2 separate regions of the Homo sapiens genome follow, and region 1 is linked to region 2. Evidence: fine-mapped expression QTL. A gene starts in region 2. The other region holds a variant in brackets. All regions are shown on one strand. Distances are from middle to middle. Region 1 has its middle 2.4 kb from the start of TAS2R40. Region 2 holds the start of GSTK1 (glutathione S-transferase kappa 1).

Region 1 (2,911 bases), 44 kb after region 2:
AACCAATGAGCCTTGGGTCAGATTTGGCCTGTAGTCATTTTACCTTGCATTGGTTAATGCTGTACAGCATTAATCCACCAGTGTGTAACTTTTCTTTTTGAGGGGTTCTATTGGCAAACATTTAAACTTAGGAGATTACTTATATGCATGCACAAAAAATCTATCTTCTCTTGAAAAATTAGAAGATTTGGCAGTATTGGGTCTTCATAGTGAACTGGCTGAAGCTGAGTAATGGCTGCCCATTTTAAACAAGGTATATACTTTTCAGTTTGTTGACAATACTAATTCCTAGTGTCTTCTTGACACAGAAGCTGAGTGCCAGTTATCATTTTCCAGTGTGCTTACCCTGTTATTTTTATTTGATTATTTTTCTTTTTGAGACTGGGTCTCACTCTATCACCCAGGCTGGAGTGCAGTGGTGTAATCATGGCTCACTGCAGCCTTGACCTCCATAGCTCAGGTGATCCCCACACTTCAGCCACCTGAGTAGCTGGGACTACAGATGCATGCCAACACACCTGGCTAAGTTTTGTATTTTTTGTAGAGACAGAGTTTCGCCATGTTGGCTAGGCTGATCTTGAATTCTTGGGCTCAAGCAATCCTCCCATCTCAGCCTCCGAAAATACTGGGACTATAGGTGTGAGCTACCATCCTTCACACCTTGGTCCATTATATTTTGGGCCTTGGTCCATTATATTTTTTAATAATATAAATTGATGAATGATAAAAATGGGTTTCCCCACCCCAAATTAATTTTATTTAAAATAAGGAAGTTGGCTGGGCGCAGTGGCTCATGCCCGCAATCCTAGCACTTTGGGAGGCTGAGGAGGAGGATTGCTTGAGCTCAGGGGTTTGAGGTCAGGCTGGGCAACATAGTGAAACCCCTTCTCTACCAAAAATACAAAAAATTATCTGGGCATGGTGGCATGCACCTGTGGTCTCAACTACTCGAGAGGCTGAGGTGGGAGGATCCTTGAGCCTGGGAGGCGGAGGTCTCAGTGAGCTGAGATGGAGCTACTGCACTCCAGCCTGGGTGACAGAGCCAGACCGTGTCTCAAAAATAAATAAATTAATTAAATAAGGAAGTAGAGATTTATTATTTGTATAGAAATAAGCACCAGGCAAAGCAATATATTTCAAAATTAAGAAAGCATTATTTAGGGAAATTAAAACTTATGTCAACACGGAGATTTGTACAAAAATGCTCACAGCAGCTTTATTCATAATAGTCAGAACTGGAAACGAGATTTGTTGGCAGGTTCTGCATCTCCTGTAAGAGACTCATTAACTTTGGTTAGTTCTCTTAATTGAGGACAGTAGTATTTGTCAGCAGCTTTCA[C/T]GTATTCCAAAGCATCAAACTCACTTTTTGGTTTATTTTGTCCCAACATATGCAAGTTTGTAATAAATGATATCTCCCCAAATTTCTGGCACACAATCGTTGACTTCCATTGTTCTGGTACTGTTTTCTATTGGTCTTCATTCATGTTTTTCTCTGATTTTAAGAGGTGGGAACAGAAGGAGATCTTGGGCAGGGTCTGCCTGCAGCCCCAGAGGCTCAGGCAAGAGGAGCAGGGAGGGGATCAGCCATTGGGGTGTGGGACTATTGCTGAGGCTCAATGCAAGCTGGCAGTCTGGGCTGACAACTCCAAGGCACTCACAGTGCCACATTTATAGCTATGTGGGGCCAATTCATTTTTATTCCATATTTTATCATTTGGAGAGCTAGAATGGAGGCATCATCTCTACTTTAGAGAAGTTCTTTTTTTATTTTTATTTTTGGAGACAGGGTCTTGCTCTGTCACCCAGGCTGCAGTGCAGTGGCACGATCTCAGCTCACTGAAACTTCCCCCTCCCAGGTTCAAGCGATTCTCATGTCTCAGCCTCCCAAGTAGCTGGGATTACAGGTGTGTGCCACCATGCCTGGCTTATTTTTGTATTTTTAGTAGAGACGGGGTTTCACCGTGTTGGTCAGGCTGGCCTTGAACTCCTGGCCTCATGTGATCCACCTGTCTTGCCCTCCCGTAGTGCTGGGATTACAGGCGTGAGCTACTGCACCCGGCCTGCTTTAGAGAAGTTCTCATGGGGGTCTTCAAGGAACAAAAGTTTCAAATTCTTGGCTACGAAGTTTAAAAGCTTTGGTCCAGGCATAGGATAGAACAGATTGGAAGAATACACCTATTCTTCCAATGTTTCCAGGGAAACATTTTTCTTTCACATCTCTCTCCATCACTACCATGTAGACTAGAAAATGCTTTCCCAGTTGGAGAGGAATGAAAGAAGAGGAGGCAGGAAAGAGCTAGAGAAGGTAAGGATCTCTTTTGAAGGGGTCCCACATCTTGGCCCACTGCTCATGGCTGCATGGGGGTGTCAAAGGCAGACAGGCTGCAAGAGGGCCCCTGAGTCCCCTGCAGCCTGTCCACACTTGGGAGAGCTGTTCAACCTTCCTTGTGTTCACAGAAGGAGTTTGGAAATCTGCTAAGGGAGTTATCGGATTCCATGGGGTCTAGTGGCCATATCAAGGAGACTTTACAAGCATGAGATCAAAGTGTGGACACGTGAATTGACATCAACGTAAGGACAGGAATGACCACAGTATAGACTCTACATCCCACCTTCATGCCAAATCTTTGAGTGACTCCCAAGGAGCATAGGTGTCCTTCATGGAAGACAAGAAGGAGAAAGGAGAAGGGATAAACACAACATGTTTCTCCCCCTCCAGTTTCAGTGCCCCATTCTGTGCTTCCCATCCAATTGTAATGTCTTGGGCAGGTTCCAAATGTTCGTCTTCTTTTGGTTATTAATACTCAGTCCAGTTTAATTTCATATTTGGTTTAAGTATTATCTTCTGCCTTTCCCCAAGCACAGTTTCAGCTGACACCCCATCTGCTAGGACTGGGAGGAGACAAGGTGG
Region 2 (2,911 bases):
CTCCTCTTGCTGCTTTCCTGGTGGAGGACTAGCTCTTCCTTGCTTCTGACATCCCCCAGAGCTCCTCCGCCCTCAGCCTCTCACCCAAGGTTCCCATGACCTATTTGCCTGCTCTTCTTCCCTTTCATGCCCGGCAACCTTCAGCTCGCTCAAGGCTGATCCTGAGGTTTCCCAAGGCAGGCTTCACTTGCTTTAGTCTCCCGCAGCCCCTCCATCCTATCAATCCCTCAATCTCCGACTTCTGTGTTTTTCACTGGATACCCTGTCTACATCCCACTCTCTTCACCTTTTTCAAGCATCACAGACAAGAAATCCTTGGGGAAGTGGATGGGAATCTGGAGATGGTGTCTCAGGAGCTTTAAGTCATTTGCCATGTATAGTCCTTTGCGGGGAAGCAGACCTGGAGGCTTGTTTCCTGCCAGGAGAAGGTTGGGCACGCTAAGTGAGAAAAGACCTAAGGGTCCCAGGTTTGGGGACCTCGACGTGGGTTTTGGGCAGAGGGCAGCTTCCTTTTTTTTCTCTTGTTGTTTCGCTCTTGTTGCCCAGGCTGGAGTGCAATGGTGCGATCTCAGCTCACCGCAACCTCCGCCTCCTGGGTTCAAGCGATTCTCCCGCCTCAGCCTCCCGAGTAGCTGTGGTATACAGGCATGCACTACCACGCCCGGCTAATTTTGTATTTTTAGTAGAGACGGGGCAGAGGGCAGCTTTCTGGCTGCCAGTGCCAATATAAGGACCCGCTGGGGTCGGCTCTCTTGGGCCACTGAGATCACCCCTGCCCCGACCCTCCCTTCCTACCACTGTCTTTCATGATCCCTGTTATGAGGCTGGGCCGCAACTGCAGGTTGATGTTCCAGATATTCTGATACCGGCACAGGATCTGCGGGCAGAGGTCAAGAACGATTGCCAGTGTGCAAGATGGAAAAGTGAAAGAGCCGAGGGAAAGGGAAGGGAGGCGCTAAGTGCAGAGCAGGGGTTATGCGGACACCCTACATTGTTTGGTTTGAAATTGGCAAAACTCTCCTCACTACTAGAAATCTATTCCAGGATCTTCGCTCCTGTGGCCAGTTTTCCCCAAAACTGCCATCGTTGGGCTAAGAGGTGGCCGTGTTCTGCATTTCTCCCTGAATGTTTGGAGCCGCCCCTCTTTCCACCACCGTGGGAAACTGCAGTCGGGATATAAAGGCTCGGGTTGGAGCCAGCGACTCTATTCCGTTTAAAAGCACAAAGTGACCTTCAGCCCCGGAGCTCTCCCTGCTTGCCTTAACCCCTTGGGCGGCGCCAGGAGTTACACGAGACCTCTGTCCCGGAGCCCTGCGCTCACTCTTCCCTCCGCCCTCACTCCCCAGACACTGCCGAGGCGACCCCTCCCAGCGTCACCTCGAAGCCCAGCCAGGAGTAGGGGGACAGCACGTCATAGAAGAGCTCCACGGTGCGCGGCAGGGGCCCCATGCTGCAGGCTCCGGAAGAGCAGTGGCAGCAGGAGCTCCTTTTCCCGGAACCCGGCAGAGGCTGCCCAGCTTCTGGGCCTGCCTGGGACCGCCCACCGCCTTAGCGCGCAGCCTCAGAGAGAAACTGCCCTGGTAGAGGTCCACCTCCGGCGCAGCGGGGCAGGGCCAGCCTACGGCCCCCAGCCAGGGGCGGGGTGGGTAGGGACCCCTTGGGGAGCGCGCAGGTGTGGACAAGGGGCGCTGCAATCGCCTTTGCAAAAATTTTAACAGTGAGAAAATTACGAAGGTGAAACAGATCTGAACTCACCAACTCCATCGTGCCTTTAACCTCCAAACTGCCCTTGGTCATTCCTGAGCATGGGACGAGCTAATATAGGGAGAAATTTAGTTTATAGTTTAAATGATAATAGCCCTTCCCCAAACTAAACCAGTTTTATAAAACTAATAAAAGTCCACAAGTTTAGGATTATGAGAGGGGCCTGAATTCTGCTAAGATGTAGGCATTAACAATTACCAGACATTGTTCCAGAGGTCACAAGCTCTGCAACTTCCCCAATTATTCCTGTAAATAACCACTTTTGTAGAACCTAAGACTGGCCTTTGAAGATACCTTCTCAGACTTTTCCATTTCTAATGACAGGATGACTCCACCTGGACCAGTGACTCCTCTGTGGCCCGCATCCAAATGCAACTCGGTGCACTGAGGACGGTTTTCCACACCCCTGTGATTGCATCCCCAACCAATTAGCAGCACCCATTCTCTAGCCCCTTGCCCATCAAACTATCATTAAAAAACTCTAGCCGGCGGGCATGGTGGCTCACGCCTGTAATCCCAGCACTTTGGGAGGCTGAGGTGGGTGGATCACTTGAGGTCAGGAGTTCAAGACCACTCTGGCCCACATGGTGAAACCCTGTCTCTACTAAAAATGCAAAAATTAGCCGGGCATGGTGGCATGTGCCTGTAATCCCAGTTACTCGGGGGGCTGAGTCAGGAGAATTGCTTGAATCCGGGAGGCAGAGGTTGCAGTGAGCCGAGATCATGCCACTGCACTCCAGCCTGGGTGACATAGCAAGACTCCCTCTCAAAAGAAAAACAAAAACAAAAACAAAAAAACCCACAAAGTCCCCTAGCCTCTGCCTCCGAATTTTGGGAGGCTAATTTGAGTAATAATAAAACTCTGGTCTCCTGTTTAGCTGGCTCTATGTGTATTAAACTCTTTCTCTATTGCAATTCCCTTGTCTTGATAAATTAGCCCCATCTGGGTAATGGGCAAGATGAACCCATTGGGCTGGTGTCAGGGTGACTGTCCTGCTCTGCAGTGGAGTCTTGTGGGAAGGGGGTAGTTTGAGATGCCTGCAGTGCCTTTCACTTAGCTGTGCCCCTTGGGTGAGCCACTTGACCTCTCTGAACCTATTTCCTCATCCTGCATACACATGGGGAATATCTAATGATAACACCTGCC

Evidence for each region. PIP is the estimated chance that this variant, and not a neighbour inherited with it, causes the effect.
Region 1: its variant is fine-mapped to the expression of GSTK1 in whole blood (INTERVAL, PIP 0.99).

Annotation. Positions count from the first base shown.
Region 1 is chr7:143,218,180-143,221,090 of GRCh38, reverse strand. No RefSeq gene overlaps it. Among named protein-coding and RNA genes, the nearest start is that of TAS2R40, 2.4 kb to the left of the region's middle. The variant C/T (reference allele first, on the strand shown) is at 1,340.
Region 2 is chr7:143,262,052-143,264,962 of GRCh38, reverse strand. It overlaps GSTK1 (glutathione S-transferase kappa 1), which reads right to left and starts at 1,522. Exons shown (of 8, transcript NM_015917.3): 1 at 1,378-1,522; 2 at 796-877; 3 at 287-415. The coding sequence starts at 1,449. All of the region lies in intron 2 of TMEM139-AS1 (TMEM139 antisense RNA 1), which reads left to right. LOC105375546 (a long non-coding RNA gene) reads right to left here. Exons shown (of 3, transcript XR_007060569.1): 3 at 1,756-1,815. RefSeq lists enhancers at 1,275-1,494, 1,313-1,607 and a silencer at 1,635-1,704.